Linked DNA regions of Homo sapiens: region 2 is linked to region 1. A link means that fine-mapping ties the variant in region 1 to the expression of a gene that starts in the linked region. Tissue or cell type: NK cells. Region 1 holds a variant in brackets; the other region holds the start of a gene. All regions are shown on one strand. Distances are between the middles of the regions.

The links. PIP is the estimated chance that this variant, and not a neighbour inherited with it, causes the effect.
Region 2: it holds the start of MARCHF10, and the variant in region 1 is fine-mapped to the expression of MARCHF10 in NK cells (Gilchrist 2021, PIP 0.95).

Annotation. Positions count from the first base shown.
Region 1 is chr17:62,710,730-62,718,833 of GRCh38, forward strand. MARCHF10 (membrane associated ring-CH-type finger 10) reads right to left here. Exons shown (of 11, transcript NM_152598.4): 9 at 502-615. All of the region lies in intron 2 of MARCHF10-AS1 (MARCHF10 antisense RNA 1), which reads left to right. Among named protein-coding and RNA genes, the nearest start is that of MARCHF10-AS1, 8.6 kb to the left of the region's middle. The variant A/C (reference allele first, on the strand shown) is at 3,728.
Region 2 is chr17:62,803,477-62,811,580 of GRCh38, forward strand. It overlaps MARCHF10 (membrane associated ring-CH-type finger 10), which reads right to left and starts at 4,838. Exons shown (of 11, transcript NM_152598.4): 1 at 4,601-4,838. It overlaps MARCHF10-DT (MARCHF10 divergent transcript), which reads left to right and starts at 5,026. Exons shown (of 2, transcript NR_135634.1): 1 at 5,026-5,475. RefSeq lists a silencer at 4,727-4,876.

The DNA of each region.
Region 1 (8,104 bases):
TTTGTAATTTTAGTAGAGACAGGGTTTCACCATGTTGGCCAGGTTGGCCTCAAATTCCTGAGCTCAAGTGATCCTCTAGCCTCGGCCTCCCAAAGCGCTGGGATTACAGGCATGAGCCATCACACCCAGCCAGGTTCCTCTTTTTCGCAGGTCCTCCATGTTCGGGTGCCCACACGTAATACACAACCAGCCCCTGCATCCTTGCTCTCCTCTATTTTTGGGGGGCAAATATCCTAGAGGCTCATTCGGTTATATGACCATTGATGACCATTTAATTACTACTCATGTTTAATAATAAGCAATTATGTGATCGTCACTTACTTTTCAGCCAGAGGGTCACCATGTGTACACTTAGCAGCTGCTAAATCTTAGTCCTAACAATGATAGTCCCATATCCTCCCAAGCGACCGTGAGGACCTCAACAGCTTGCACATCTAATAAACAGCACTGCAGGGTTTTCAGGGCTGCCACCGGACAGCTCTGGGTCACAGCCAGACTTACCCTCTCTCTTTCCACCTGGTTGTGGTTGAGCCTCATGAGTTCTGCAAACCTCTGCTCATAGAGGTGAAGCAGCAGCACCAGGTACAAGCCTGAATTCATCAGCTCGTTTTGTGCCTACAAATGGAAAAGAAAGCTCTTCAGTTCATCTGTAAAATAGTCATGGTCTAAATTGTGGGATGCAGGGTAACAAGGCTAAGAGGTGACAAGAACTGGGAGAAGAGCCCAAGCTCCAAGGCAAGGCCTGCTCTTGGGGACCAGAAGACAGAGCAGGAGGAGATCCAGGGTAGAGGCCAGGGCAGCCACTCCCCTGGGATTTTTTACTAGCTAGTGGAGGATGCTCGGAGAAAGTTCCATTTTCCAGGCTCAATCCCATTCCACATTTATTGAGCAGTTACATATGCAAAGCCTTGAGCTGGATGTTGTGGGGAACACAGGGCAAAAAGCCTCAGAACTCCCTGCTGGGAACCGATCACCTGGTGTGGGGGAGAGAGCTTCATCGGTAAACAGCTCCAGTACAAGCTGGATGTGTCGGGTGCTACAACAGAGATGCACCAGGCCTTGTCCATAACGTTCTCAGCAGTCACAGATGTCCCCTTGTGAAAGGCTTCCTGAGGAGCCTCCTTTGCCCCCATCATTCCTTTGCTTCCCAGTCCCTAAGCATTCGTCTTGATCTTGCATATCACCTTTTGCACTTGTTAACGTTTCCGCTTTCTCTTGAGGAGTGGGCTGTGCTTTTTTTCTCGCTGGTGCTCAGAACAGGCGCTACACAGGGAGGATGTGATGGTCTGGCTGCCCATGGCACTTCTCTGTCCTTAGCACTTGGGCTTTGCTGCCAAGAGTGGCTGTGCTCACTCTAGACCTTTCACAGACCTTCCATAAATCAGTGGTATTAGTAACAACTACTCCTATCCCTCTATAGGGGAAGGAGGGGAAGGCCCTTTCAGTCCCCATCTTTCCCTTGAGTGGGGGTCTTGGGATGGGCCAGGCTGTGCTCACAAAGCCACCCAGCCCCCGGGGAATAGAGTCCCCAGCAGAGGGCATGGCCCCTTCCGTCACCCTTGGGAAAGCTTGCAACTGTGACTCTGTCGGCCCAGGATAACGATGCGTGGGCATGAATGACACAGTGAGCACTCAGTGTCTCATCTGCCTTCTTCCTGCAGCAGCGCGGGTGCCACATCTTCCTGTTCTCATTAGATCCAGGGCAGCTCAGGAGGTTGGCACAGAACCCACCTCTCCCAGGACCAAGCAGCTGCCAGAAAAGGCACAGAAGTTGAGCAAGGATTGATATGCTCTTCCTTCTGAATCAGGGCCAACTCTGGATCTTGGTGACAGCCGGCCCTGAGATCACTGCTGCAGGCCTCTCCACCATTCTACAGATCCATCTTCGAAGGCCCCAGTCCTCTGTCCTTAGCAGTTAGCCTCCTATTTTTAGCCTTTGGTCGTGTTTTTTGTGCTCTGCTGACCTTGGCCTAGAGTGAGTAGAGAAGAAGTTGCTTGTTTGCATTATTTCTGTTTTATTTATTTAATTTTATTTTTGAGACAGACACAGTCTTGCCCAGGCTGGAGTGCAATGGCGTGATCTCGGCTCACTGCAACCTCCACCTCCCAGGTTCAAGCAATTCTCCTGCCTCAGCCTCCTGAGTAGCTGGGATTACAGGTGTGCACCACCACGCCCAGCTAATTTTTGTATTTTTAGTAGAGATGGGGTTTCATCATGTTGGCCAGGCTGGTCTCGAACTCCTGGCCTCAGGTGATCCACCTGCCTTGGCCTCCCAAAGTGCTGGGATTACAGGTGTAAGCCACCCTGCCTAGCCACTTTTTCTGTTTTAATTGCCTCCTCCTGCCCTCCCCGTGAGTCTGTGCCTGCCTCCGACTGTCTCGCCAACCACCTCTTCTGAGAAGCCTTCCTCACCTGGCTTTTAGCTCCTCCTCACCAACAAAGCCTTGGTCCTTATTTGTTTACCTCATCCCCGGCTTCCTCCTGCAAAAGCTGCCAGTGGTTCTCTCACCAGTGCTCTTTGCCAGCCAGCTTTTATGCTTGAGACACCGGGATGCATGATGACAAATCAATCAGCTAGAAAATGGTTTGGAACTATCAGGTTTGTCAAAGCATTCAGGAAAATCATTTACTTTTTATGACTCAATAAGGCCCAGAGGCATGCAGATGGGAGAATATCCACTAATGTTTTCTGCAGATAATTTGAAAAGTCACTTCTAGCAGATTGTGTCTCTTCTCTGATCTGTGGGAGGGAACCTGCCACACAGTGCCATCAATCTCGCCGGCTCGGTTCCTTTATGTGCGCCCTTTGCAGAGCTGGTGATGCTCGACAAAGGGGCTCAGCCCACCAATCAGAGCAGGCGTGTGATAGTCAACTCCGAATCAGCCTTTACACTCCTGAGCTACAAGTGGGAGGGATTTGTTAACTCAAAGAGTTCCACCGCACTTGGCTGGCCAGGGCCAAATGAACGAGGTTTTGGAGCAGGGCTTACTGGAGCTACGGCCCATCCACCCCTTCCTTGTCCCAATCACATCACACTTTGACTCCCACGTGGAGTTCCCTTTGTGTGCCAGACTGAAGGGAATGGGGGTGGCATTAATAGGAGGGGGCGGGGACATTAAAAAGGAGAAGGCATGTGAAACAGCGCAAAAGGGCTCCGGAGATCTCAGCCCACCTGCCAGCTGTTTTCTCCATTTTGCTAATATTCATTTAGGCCAAGAGACTTGCTACTGACGGAAATTCTCAATATATTCCACTTAAAGAAGCTGACAGCCTGGCTGAATGTTCTATCAAGTCTTCAAATATATTCAAGAGTGCTCCTAGGTATAAGGGTGATTAGGTGACTGCGTGTGTCTGAGGACATCTGTCCTTGGCTGAGATGGAGCCAGGCCAGGCCTGTGCTTCACAGCAATGACAGCCTGAGGCCCACTGAGACTCTCCTGTGCGGCAGAGCAAGGATGGCAGGGGTGTGTTCCAATTCAGTGAGCAGGGGCCCCTGGAGTGCATCTTACCTGGAAAGCGCTGCCGGCTAAGGTGGGCAGTGCAGGGCCACCGGACACTGTGACTTTAGGCAGAGTTTTAACTGTGCAGGACCAAAGGGACTCAATTTGTAATGGAAGGGAAGTAACCTCTGTTCTGCCTGTTTCCTCAAAGCATGATAGTAAAGTGAGCTAATATATGGGATCTCGCAACACCAACACATCCTACAAGAGACAAGATTTAAAGAC[A/C]GGATTCCAGGTAAATTGTCTGGGCGTTAAGATCTGTGAGGGCAAGACCTGCATCTGTCTTGTTTGCTCCTGACTCCTAGTGCCTGGCCCAGTGCCTGGTATACTGTGCATGCTTTATAAATATATGCACAGATGAAGCAATGAGAAAAAAATGCATAATTGTGATGGATCAGACAGTGACCCATTCAGCCACAACTTTTGAATCTAGTGGCTCCAGGTTTAACATGCATCAGAAATACTGAGCAGGCCTTTTCAAACACAGTTGCCAGGCAGTCCCGTCCCCTCCCCTCCCCCTTCTCCTCTTTTTTTGAGACAGTCTCACTCTGTTGCCCAGGCTGGAGTGCAATGGTGTGATCTCGGCTCACTGCAACCTCCGCCTCCCAGGTTTAAGTGATTCTCCTGCCTCAGCCTCCCGAGTAGCTGGGATTTCAGGTGTGTGCCACCACTCCCAGCTAATTTTTGTATTTTTAGTAGAGACGGGGTTTCACCACATTTGGCCAGGCTGGTCTCCAACTCCTGACCTCAAATGATCCACCCACCTCGGCCTTTCAAAGTGTTGCGATTACAGGCGTGAGTCACCGCGCCTGGCCTCACTGCTCCTCCTTTCCTCCCTGCATTTCTGATTCAGCTGGACTGGAGTGGGCCCAAGAATGTGTACTTCTAACAAGTTCCCAGATGATGCTAACGCTCCTGGTTTGGGGACCACCCATTTTTGAGAACCACTGATCTAAACTAAGGGTGAGCACGTGGTAGCTGCTAAGCTGAATCTGGCCTGTGGATGTGCTCTGGTTGGATGGAAGGAAGCAAGAAGGAAGGTAGAAAAGAAGAGCATGACCATCTTTAGTTGGGGAGAGCACTTTCCATTTTGCCACAAATGCCACCACGCCCAATGGCAGGATACCTAGAAGATTACCATCATTTGTTGTCTGCCTGGCCTCTGTGGTATTTGAGTGTGTAACCTGTGACCTAAGCTTTCCTTAAACCTGTTTTCACCTCATCCATTTTGGAGGCTAGAATGTTATTTGGCTCGCCGCATGCTGCTGTCCAGGAGTTCTGCCCTCCACCGCAAAACCGAGTGCCCAACCAGCATCCAATATGAGTCCTGCTTCCAGGCGACAGCCAACGCTCACAGGAGCAAATGTAGGCTTGCCTCACACACAGCACTACCGAAAGAGTCAGGAGAAAGGAGGGCTGTACTGCCACAGGCCCTGACAGACCTAAGATGAAACCGCCAGGTCCCTGGGGTCCCACAGCTGCTCTTGTCTAATGATCCCCTCTCCAGATGCTTGTAGGAGTTCCTGATCTAGCCGCTTGAGGCCTGGTAACAGACCTTGACCTTGGGCCTCATACTAGAATAATCCGAGTTCAGTGCCCTGTTAGCACCTGTGAGCAGCATCTGCCCTGCTCCCACCAGAAGTACAGAACTAAGGTAGGAAAACGTGCTCTGACGGGAGCCCCTCCACACTCTCAAAGGCCACCGACAGTGCTGACCCGGCACCTAGAGGACACGCCCTGATCTGTGCTCAGGTCCCAGGGGAGGCGTCCGTCCCAGATGTCACAGACTTCACTCCAAGGCCCGGTTGATAGAAGGCCCGCTCCTCTCTTTCCTTCCGCTGTTAAACATCTCTTCTTCAGAAAGGCCTTCTCTGGTTCAGAGAGCAAGTCGGAGTCCCACAGCTGTTCCCGCAGCGGCCTGCATGGTCCTTGTTTTGACCTCCACCTGCAGGAATTGCTGGCTTCAGTCTTCGCTGCTGGTCGGTAGGGCCCTGCGGGTCTTGGGTACGGCAGCATTTTCGGCACAGTATCTCACAGGCAGCAGGTGCTCAATAAGTATTTGAAAATTTAGTTAAACTGGCTGGGTGTGGTAGCTCACACCTGTAACCCTAGCACTTTGGGAGGCCAAGGTGGGAAGATCACTTGAGCCCAAGATTTTGAGACCAGCCTGGGCAACAAAGTGAGACAGACCCCATCTCTCAAAAAAAAAAAAAAAGAAAAAAAGCAGGGTGTGGTGGCACACACCTGTGGACCCAGCTACTTAGGAGGCTGAGGCAGGAGGATCCCTTGAACCCAGGAGGGACCCTGGCCCCATCCCAGAGCTGGGGTTAGACCTGGGTTGGGCCTGTGTATCACCATTTTAATAGAAAAAAAGAAGACCTGCAGCTAAATGTTATAAGTTATCATTTTGGGTGGTAAATTATAAGAAATTTTTGTATGGTTTTTGTAATTAAACAAAAGCAAAAAAAAAAAAATTCTAAGTGGGAAAATATATAAGAAAAACAGTTCACTAGTCAGTTAGTTTGAGGTTAAGTGAGAACCAGGCTAAGCTGAAGCCCGTTCTAGGTTTCTTTTGGTTTTGCCCCTTTTTTGGTACATGTCTAGACTTGTACACGTCTAGAAGTGGTGCCACTTCTCCAGAAAGGAACCCATTTGCCAAGGACAAGCAGCAGGAGGGTGGCCAGGAGGCCCAGGTGAGCCAGGTTTGGAAGCGAGGGGAAGGGACCAGGCCCACAAGGCACAGGTGTCCATGTCACCTCCACGGCCAGGCTGGTGGCCTCCTCAGCTGGGCTTGTCCCCTCAGTGGGCTCACCGCGCCTCGGGGACGAGCTGAGTTTCAGTGACGTTGTAGATATCTTTGTGTTCAACAACAGTTGCTTCAGTCTTTATCTATGGCGAGCTTCAGAATTCGCCCAAGTCAGGCTCCCTGGGGCCTGGGGTTTCGCCCAGGCTGTGAGCAGACAGGCACTATGAATTCCCAGCAGGTCATGGGGACAGTCAGGGCTGCAGTGAGGTGTGAGCCCTCAGCCGCCTCCAGACAGCAGCCGCCCATGCTATGACCTGGCTCTCCCCACAGGGCGGGCCTGGCAGCCTAGCTGTCACCTGGGATGATAATGCGGGCATTTCCCAAAGGCTCTGATGGCTTGTGAAGTTCTCACTGAAACGAATTTAAAATCATTCCTGCTTCCACGTGGAGCAATGACTGTGCTGGATGCTTTCTGTCTCTCCTGCAGATCCGCACCCCTCCTGCTCTGTGGCCCAGGGGCCGGCCCCATGGCTTTCCCCAGCCGGGCTTCCTTGCCCTCTGGCTTCCCGTTGGGTTTGGCCCATGGGAGGCCCCGGCAGGAGACCCGAGGGCGGAGGAGGGAGAAGCTGGGTGTCTCTTCCCAATCCCTCTCTGCTGGGCGTGGTGTGACAGTGGTTGCTGTCTTCTCCTGAAGGCCACAGGCTGCTGGTGGCTGATCCTTAGCTACAGCGCTCATGACCCTGGCCACACTGCTAGTCCCAGGACGCCTCCTCGTTCCTTGCTGCTTTCTTTTGCTGCCCAGATTTCCCTCCTCCCTTCTGCGTTCTTCACTTGCCCCCTTTGAGTGTGCCACCATCTCTTCCCACCCAGATCCTGGCTGATACAATTACTGTCATAGTTCTTTCTAGAAGGTGCTTGTAGCCAGTTGTCTTAACATGGAGGGTGCGGTGGGGCCGAGGATATGGATGTGACCCAGTGGGGCTGGTTTGTTTTGTTAGTTCACTGATGGACTCTAGGCCAGTCATTGGTGCACGTAGCTTTCTCCCCTGAGTGCCAAGTCAGTCGAGCGTCTCTGTGGCTGTAATCTGACAGTTCTCATGCGTGGAGCCTCCTCTGCCCACACTCTGTCTATGAGGTGATGTACTCGAGTCTTTTCCTACATCCAGACCTGTGAGGTGTGAGTTAACATCTCTCACCTTCTACAGATAAGAGAACTGAGGTGCAGAGAATTGCCATAGTCTCCTCAAGGTCACGGGGCCACTCTGGGGAAGAGAGTAGGGTTTAGACTGAGATCTTAATCAAAGCTGGTAGGCTTTTCAGTGGGACCTGCGGCCTCAGACTACATGAGTGCAAACATCTTAGTACAAATGGAAAAATGTGCTGCTGTTGGGTCAGTTCTATAAATGCCATTGATAAAGGACATTAGATGGTGGCAGCAGCTTGGCAGAGGGAGAACCATGTGGAAAGGCTTGGGGCCAAAAGGGATCTTTTCTAGACAAGGCATTCCCCTGGGCTGCACGGTGTTTGTGGTGTCAGTAGATTGCTCTGATAGATAGTATTCTGGGCAACCCATCCTCACGTGGACACGTCCTCCTTAGGAGATTCGGCAGGCTCCGTTGCCCAAAATGATCTATTTCTTGAGATGAACCTGTCGGCACCCTGACTGGCACCTGACCTCAGGCACTGAGAGGTTCTGGTTTCTTTCAGTATTTCGCCTCCCACATGCTCAGCGTCCAGGAATGTGAGTCGCGCTGTTTATCGTCTCAGATCTTAGTGCCTGGTGGTTATGATGCAGTGATGTGAGACCTTCAGGCCTCAAAACACTATTTATTTCTCAAGAAGTCCTTCTCCTCTCC
Region 2 (8,104 bases), 93 kb after region 1:
AGGAGGTGGAGGACAGTGGGGAGGGAGAGGGGATCATAGCTACTCTTTTTTATTTTTTTTTGAGATGGAGTCCTGCTCTGTCGCCCAGGCTGGAGTGCCGTGGGGCTATCTCGGCTCACCACAACCTCCGCCTCCCAGGTTCCAGCTATTCTCCTGCTTCAGCCTCCCAAGTAGCTGGGATTACAGGCACGTGCCACCACACCCGGCTAATTTTTTATTAGTAGAGGCGAGGTTTCACCATATCGGCCAGACTGATCTTGAGCTCCTGACGTCAGGTGATCTGCCCACCTTGGCCTCCCAAAGTGCTGGGATTACAGGCATAAGCTACTGCGCCCGGCCCATAGTTACTCTTTACCGACCCTCTGGAAGGGATAGGCCTTGTTCTAAGCAGTTACATCAATTAACTCATTCAATCTTCTCAACAACGCAGTGAGGCCAGCACTAGATCTCTATTTCGCAGGTGAGGAAACTGAGGACCAAAGGGATTAAGTAACTTCCCTAAAGTTACGGAGCTAGTGAGGGGAAGAGTCGGGATGTGAACCCGGAGACTCGCTCCAGTACCCACACTCTTAACCAAGGGATTCAAGGGATGCTCAGGACAGAAAGTCATCAGGGCTTGCGATTATATGAATGGACCAGGGGTGGAAGTCTCAGGGATGCCCAGGTTACTGGCTTGAGCAGCCAGTGGGTTGGTGCCAGCATTCGCTTCAGAAAACACAGGAGGAGCTGCTTTGTGAGGAGACAGCATGGCGTCACAAGTGTCTGCGGTGCGGCAAACGGAGATGTCAAGTGTGCTGTCAGACGCAGGGCTCTGGAGCTGACCGGAGAGGTACAGATTTGGGCACTGCTGGCATTCTGTGATAACTGAAGTTGAAGGAAGAATGGGAACGAAAAGAGAAAGAGGACACAGGGACAAAACCTCGTGAAGAACACGAATATTTAGAGAACAAGCCGCTGAAGAGAAACTCTGCGGAAAAAAAAGAAAAAGCCAGAGAGGCAGGAAGAAACCAGGTGGGTGCCGTTTCAGAGATGCCCAGAAGAGAGGGTTTCAAAAAGGAGGCTATTAATAACCTTGGTGAGAGCATTCATTGGAGTGACGGGGCTGGGAGGGCTGCAGAAGGTTGCGTAAATGGGAGGCAAAGGCGTGGAGATCATGCTTTCAAGAAGTTTGGCTTTGACTGGCATGGCCCAAATTTATGGCCAAGATATCTAAGCTCACAAAGGGATAAAATGGCACTGTTAATAACGACCCCTCATCTATGGGGTCATCAAAGCCCCCACACTATTCCTGTTTGTTGTCTACTGAAGCTCTTTCATTTATTTCTACACACACACACACACACATATTTTTTACAACTGCTGTGTGTGACAAGGGCTGCTAGGCTCTGGGGAAACATCAGGATGGGACAGGCGACATCTCTACCTTCAGGTGTATACGTTCTGCGGCATTCCCTCGCTCCTCCTGTTTATTCAGTTGTGCAGATATTGGCAGAGTCAGGCCGCCCCGGACTCATGGTGACCCAGCGTCTGGTCTGGTAGTTATGAAATCTCACATGGTTTATCATCTGGCCCTGAACAATGGGGAAAACTTGTGCTCGTCTCTTGGGGGCTATTTTCTCTGGAGTATGGAAAGTTGGTCTTTTGACAGTCAGAATCTGAAACTACAATCCAATGTGTATTTCCAGTCTACACACAAAACATACATTTTGTCTCTAAGCATTTTAATAATCACTTATGGGACTATGTTTTAAAAGATCACTTTTAGCTTTTCATCTGAATGTGTACCTGCATAGAATGAAGTTACCTTTGCACTCTTTTCAGAAAACGATGGTGTTAAAACAGGCAGAAGGATAAGCTCCTGCTGCTACTGTGGGAAAGAGAAGCCTGTCTGAATCTTATTCAGGCAGAGACCATAAAGACTCATAATAAAAATATGTTAATGGTCACTAAAGGGGAGCATCCCAGAGTCCACTTGGATGATACATTTTGGTTGCCAAAGTTAATATAGAAAGCCGGTTAATCTATCACGGCTTTAGAGCAGGGTTAATTTAAGGAGGCTTCTAAGTCAAGAGGCATGAAATAACTTTGTCTAAATAGGAAGTAGCACCCTTTGAATTACTTGCTAAGTTACCTCTGACTTCACAATCACCTACCAAATAAAGGACTTTAAAATGCCTGTAATCCCAGCACTTACAGAGGCCAAGGCAGGTGGATCACTTGAGGTCAGGAGTTCGAGATCGGCCTGGCCAACGTGGCAAAACCCCATCTTTACTAAAAATACAAAAATTTGCTGGGCGTGGTGGTGCACTCCTGTAGTCCCAGCTACTTGGGAGGCTGAGACAGAAGAATCACTTGAACCTGGAAGGCGGAGGTTGCAGTGAGCCAAGATCGCACCACTGCACTCCAGAGAGAGACTCCATCCCCTCAAAAATAAAAAAAAATAATAATAATAATAATAAAATAATAAAAATAAAATTGCCTACAAAAGTCTCTCTTCCTTCCCATAAACTCTCTATTACATTGTATTTTACAATATTTAGAAACATCGTGGTGCCACATGTAATTTTTTATTTAAATACATCAAGTCTTCATGAGATTAAACAAATATTACGGGAACCAAGAAAACGGTATTAGTGTCAGACCAAGAAGATGGTGGGTTACCTCAGTATAAGCAAACATTCTCTGTGTTTGCTTGAAGTTCATACTGCACTCAGTCAGTTTGAAAAACTGACCAGGATGAACAAGAAACAGAAATAACAGTATGGAAATAAAACTACATGAGATAATGCTTAATTCATGGATCTCAGCTTTGTGGGCCTACTCAACCAGATGGCCACTTGAAGCCAAGAATTTTTCCCCAGCAAACACAGAGGGTTGGGGTGGGGGTGATAATAAAATGTGAGCAAGGCGCATGTTTCTAAAATAGCACTCTGTATTCTCTTCTATCGCTCACCTTTGAACTGCTTCTTAATTTAAAACCCACTCATGGTTATGCACACTTCTGTTTTAAGTCTTTCTGGTGATAATGTCTTGTGCCAAATCTGTGCTTTAGAAATCAACATAAGAAGCCATATTAAGTAGGGAGAGAGAAAGGAGGAGGGAGTTGGAGGCAGGTGGAGAAGGAAGGAGGGGGTCCTGCCTTGCTGAAAGCAAGAGCGAGTAATTCTTCTTGGCCTCAAAATTCTACATATCTGTGAAATTTTAATGGGGGAATATTCTAAGAACTTTGTGACATACACGTTCTTCTCTAGTGTAATTTTCCAGTGAATTCCAACCAAGTTTTCCTGACTGAGGGGAACAGAATCTGATTGCAGAATGTTTTTCAGTGCTCTAAAAGTCATGCATACGTACCATCCCTCTGTTTTATGACCACATTTGTCAAAAGAACTGATTTGAAGGAGCCTGTTCTTAATAACAATCAAAGTCTTATTGGTTTCTTACTATGTTCTCATAAGAGAAAGACATCACTAAAGTTAATATGCTGTTAAGCAATAAAGGAAATGTAAACAATCTAACCTCCTCCTTAGACGGAAGGTTGCTTTGAAATAAAATCTAAATGGCTATTGTTAATACCGGACAATCAGGCTCGAAAATTACTCCCTTTCCACAATTAGGTGATTGGAGAAGGATTTCAGGAGACCTTATTCAACCTTTTCCCCAATTGATTAATTTGTAATGTCAGACATTATAGGATTTGTTTAAATCTTAGCTCTAAAAAAAACTTTGCATTTTAAAGTCTTAGCTTATAAACATGTCTTGAGTATAAGCAACAAAGTTTACGATTTGGGCCCAATTTAAGAATACTGTGACTGCAGAGAAAAAGGGGGAATTGGTTGGGAAAGGTAAGGAGATCTTTCAACTCTTCCAGCCAATTTGGCTTAAGAGTTGGGGGCGGGGTGGAGGGTGGGGAACAGACTTGTGTTTGGCGGTGACTCTTCATTTTACTGTGAAACTAGGAGAGATAGGTGGTCACATTTCGACCATCAAGCCCAGAAGAGAGGAGAAACTCAACGTGTAATTGGGAAACTCTGGGGGAGGAAACGTCACAGGTTTGACAAGCAATTCAGTGCCATCATTAATAACAATATCCAGCCAGAGAAACATAACGAGACCCCTTCTTTACAAATAATTTAAAACATTAGCCAGACATGGTGTTGGCCTGTGGTCCCAGCTACCACCGGGAGGCTGAGGCGGGAGGATCGCTTGAGCCTGGGAGGTCGAGGCTGCAGTGAGCCCTGACTGCACCGCTGCACTCCAACCTGGGAGACAGAGCGAGACTCCTTCTCAAAAATAAACAAAATCAATATCGACCATTTCGCATTCAGAAGCCCAGTGGGCCATGGTCTGTGTATACCTTTTCTGACCAGTGGCGTCTGCAGGAAAGAATGTGGGTGCCAGTGAGCAAAGGTTCACGGTCTCCCCCAAACCTGTCCCTCTGAGACAGAAAAATGCTGGGGCTGGGGTCAGCCGAGGGGAGGGGACGGCCAGGCCACCGGATGTCAGGCCCGGTTTCCCTCCAGAATCTTGTAAGTCGAAAGGGAAGGTTGTCCCCCATCCTGGGAGAACTGGAGCGGAGCGGCGGGGGCGAGGGGGCCGTTACCTGTGGGTCTGCCCTTCCTCCCCTGCCGGGGCTACAGGGGTCGAGGGGCTGGGCGGGCGGGCCGGTCCAGGGCGCAGGAGCCGCCCATTAATTGCGCGGGGACGGCCCTGAGCTCCTCTTCCTCCTCCTCTTTTTGCTTCTTCACTCCCTACACCTGCCCCTCTTCCTCCTCCTTCCCCGAGGCTGCTTTCCGCGGCGCCGGCCGGCCTTGCCTGGGGCGGAGGCGGTGGGGGCGGCTACCGGGCGTCCTCCGGTTTCCCTAGCAACCGCGCCTCCCCGCCCCCGCGCGACCAGGTGCAGCCGCCGAGAGCACGGGGCGGGGCGGGGCGGGGCTGTGGCCCCGGGGTCCCAAGCCAGTCGTGGGCGCCCGCCGGTTGCCGTGGGAACGAGGCGGGCTGCAGTCGGGGAGTCAGAGCCACGCTGGTGGGCAGAGAAGAGATGCCCAAGGAGGAGGCGGTTGGCTTTGTCTGGGTGCCCAAGCCCAGACCCAGATATCCAGGCCTCTGCTCCCTTCCCTGAAAGGGTGCTGTGCTTCATAAAAAATGAGATTAGAAAACGAGAGAGGAAAATATTTTTAATGGAATCAGGGAATGTGAAAAGCGGTACATGCGAAGAGGAAAAGATACTGCAGTCCTGGAGTTCGACCTCTGCAGAGGACATCTGGAATGCTCTGGTCCAACACGAAAAAGAAGAAATAAGCGATGAAGCCAGGCACCCAGTCAGTGGCAGAACCGACATTAGAGCCCAGGCCTCTTCGTAATCAGTCGTCTTCACCCCCTTTCCAAGGAGAGAGGTGCTTAGAGGCCTAGACCAGGCCCTACAGCTTTGGAGCCAGGGCACCAGAACCGCTACTACCCTCACCTTCTCTGTGCCAGGTTGATTTCTTTCTTTTTCTTTTCTTTTCTTTTCTTTTTTTTCTTTCTTTCTTTTTTTTTTTTTTAGACAGAGTCTTGCTCTGTAGCTCAGGCTGGACAGTGCAGTGGCACGATCTTGGCTCACTGCAACCTCTGCCTCCGGGGCTCAAGCGATTTTCATGCTTCAGCCGTCCGAGTAGCTGGGATTACAGGCATGCGCCACCACACCCGGCTAGTTTTTGTATTTTTTTTTTTTTTTTAAGTAGAGACGGGGTTTCTCCATGTTGGCCAGGCTGGTCTCGAACTCCTGACCTCAAGTGATCCGCCCGCCTGGGCCTCCGAAAGTGCTGGGATTACAGGCATGAGCCACCTTGCCCGGCTTTGCCGGGTTGATGTCTGTCTGTGGTTCTCATGGGCAAAGATGACTCCCCTATTTACTTTGCATATTTAGGCTCTCAACTTGTCAACTGATGTCAAGTTAGGGTATTTTTGATTGAGTGGAGAGTAAGGTAAAGGAAGAATAGAAATTCTTGGAACTTTCATCAGTGCCCGGAATCCCTAGGTGTCTGTGGTTTGACCGTCTTCTCAACACCTCCCCTTCCCCCCATTCAGTTGGTGCCAAGTCCTTGGCAGCGTCACATTCTTCTTTCTATTCTTATCACTCTAGTTTTGGGCTCCATGACCTAGTTTTGGGCTCCATGGATTATTCTGAGGGCCTCCTGGTCACACCCTGGGCGCCTGTCCTCCACACCCTATCTTCACCATTTCCCCCATCCTATAAGCAGCCTACATCTAATGTTGCTGGCCCCCTGCTTAAAAAGCCCTGAAAGGTTCCTCACCGCCTGTGGAATGAAGTCCAAACTCGTCACTATGACTTTCCCTGTGCCCTCCCCCACAGTTTCCTTTCTTGGTTTTTCCCCTTCATCACTTCTTCACTCATACTTCAGCCAGATGGGACTATGTGTTACACACTGAACATTTTTCCTTGCCTTCACACCAGCTTCAAAGACATATCATGAGCTGGGCAGAGTCTAGACAAATGTACTTAGCTGAAGTCTTTCCACTGGGCACTTTCCCATCTGAACTTCGCTGGTCCTCCAGCAGACCCTAGGATCTTTTCATCTCTAGTAGCCCAGTCCATATTCTGTTCTTGTTCTCAGCTGATTATCAAGTATTCCTTAGTAAAGCATTAACTGATAATTGAAGTATTAACTGATAAGGATGTAACCTAAGAACTTGCCTCATGGTTTTTGCCTTTCAAAAGGATATGCTTTGGGCCAGGCATGGTGGCTCACGCTTGTAATCCCAGCACTTTGGGAGGCCGAGGCAGGGGGATCACCTGAGGTCAGGAGTTTTGAGACCAGCCTGGCCAACATGGTGAAACCCCATCTCAACTAGAAATACAAAAATTAGCCAGGTGTGCTGGCAGCCACCTGTAAACCCAGCTACTCAGGAAGCTGAGGCAGGAGAATTGCTTGAACCCAGGAGGCGGAGGTTGCACTCCAGCCTGGGCGACAAGAAACTCTGTCTCAAAAAAAAAAAAAAAAGTTTGGATGCGCACACTGGGTTGAAACTATAATAGTGAAATGATAGGTAGGGAGCTTGTTCTGTTGGCGCGAGGACCCACCTCAAATAAAAATAACAGAGGAGGAAGTTGAAGCCCAGGTTCTCACCTTGTTGAAGGTAAGGGACATGACCAGAACATATGGTAAGTACCAGAACCAGGGTTCAAAAACAGGGCTTTCCATCTCCAGTAACTTGATGTTGCCCACTACTAAGAAAAGCACCTTGGTACTTCCTGTACCCAGACAAGATCTATTAAAATAATACTATCTATCTCAAAAGCTTGCTGTGGGAATTAAATGAGAGAGGACAAGCAAAGCATTTCACATCATGCTTGGCACATAGCACTCAATAATTGGTAGCTTTGCTTTATAAGGCATAACTTAAGATTTTATTGCATGTGAATGTTAACCGTAAATATTTAAAGATTTTTATTTATTTTTAATTTTTTAATTTTTTTTTTTTTTGAGCCAGAGTCTGTCACCCAGGCTGGAGTGTTATAGCGCGATCTTGGCTCACTGTAACTGCCGCATCCCAGGTTCAAGCGATTCTCCTGCCTCAGCCTCCTGAGTAGCTGGGACTACAAGCACGTGCCACCATGCCCAGCTAATTTTTGTATTTTTAGTAGATACAGAGTTTTGCCAGGTTGACCAGGCCAGTCTCAAACTCCTGACATCAGGTGATCCACCCTCTTCGGCCCCCACAAAGTGCTGGGATTATAGGTGTGAGCCACTGTGCCCAGCCTAAAGATTTTTAAATAACAAGGTCTGGAGAAGTCACTTCATATCTCAGCTTTAAACTCTTCCACATGTCAAGTGTTCTTGAAAATTAAGTTATATGAAAAAATCATGGTGCCTTTGAAAGAGGGTAATAGTGCCCAAGGTCAGCTCATAAAAAGCTATAGAGCAACTCCAACTTTAGTGTTTAATGAGTAAATTTAAGCTAGGCATGTAAATTACAAATAAGATTAGTTCTGGCATTAAAAAGCAAAGTCCTTAGGAGGAGAAATATTAAAATGAAGAAGAAAAACTTCTCCTGGTTGGGGAAAGGATCCTACTCTTCATTATTTCCTGCACAATGTTCCTGG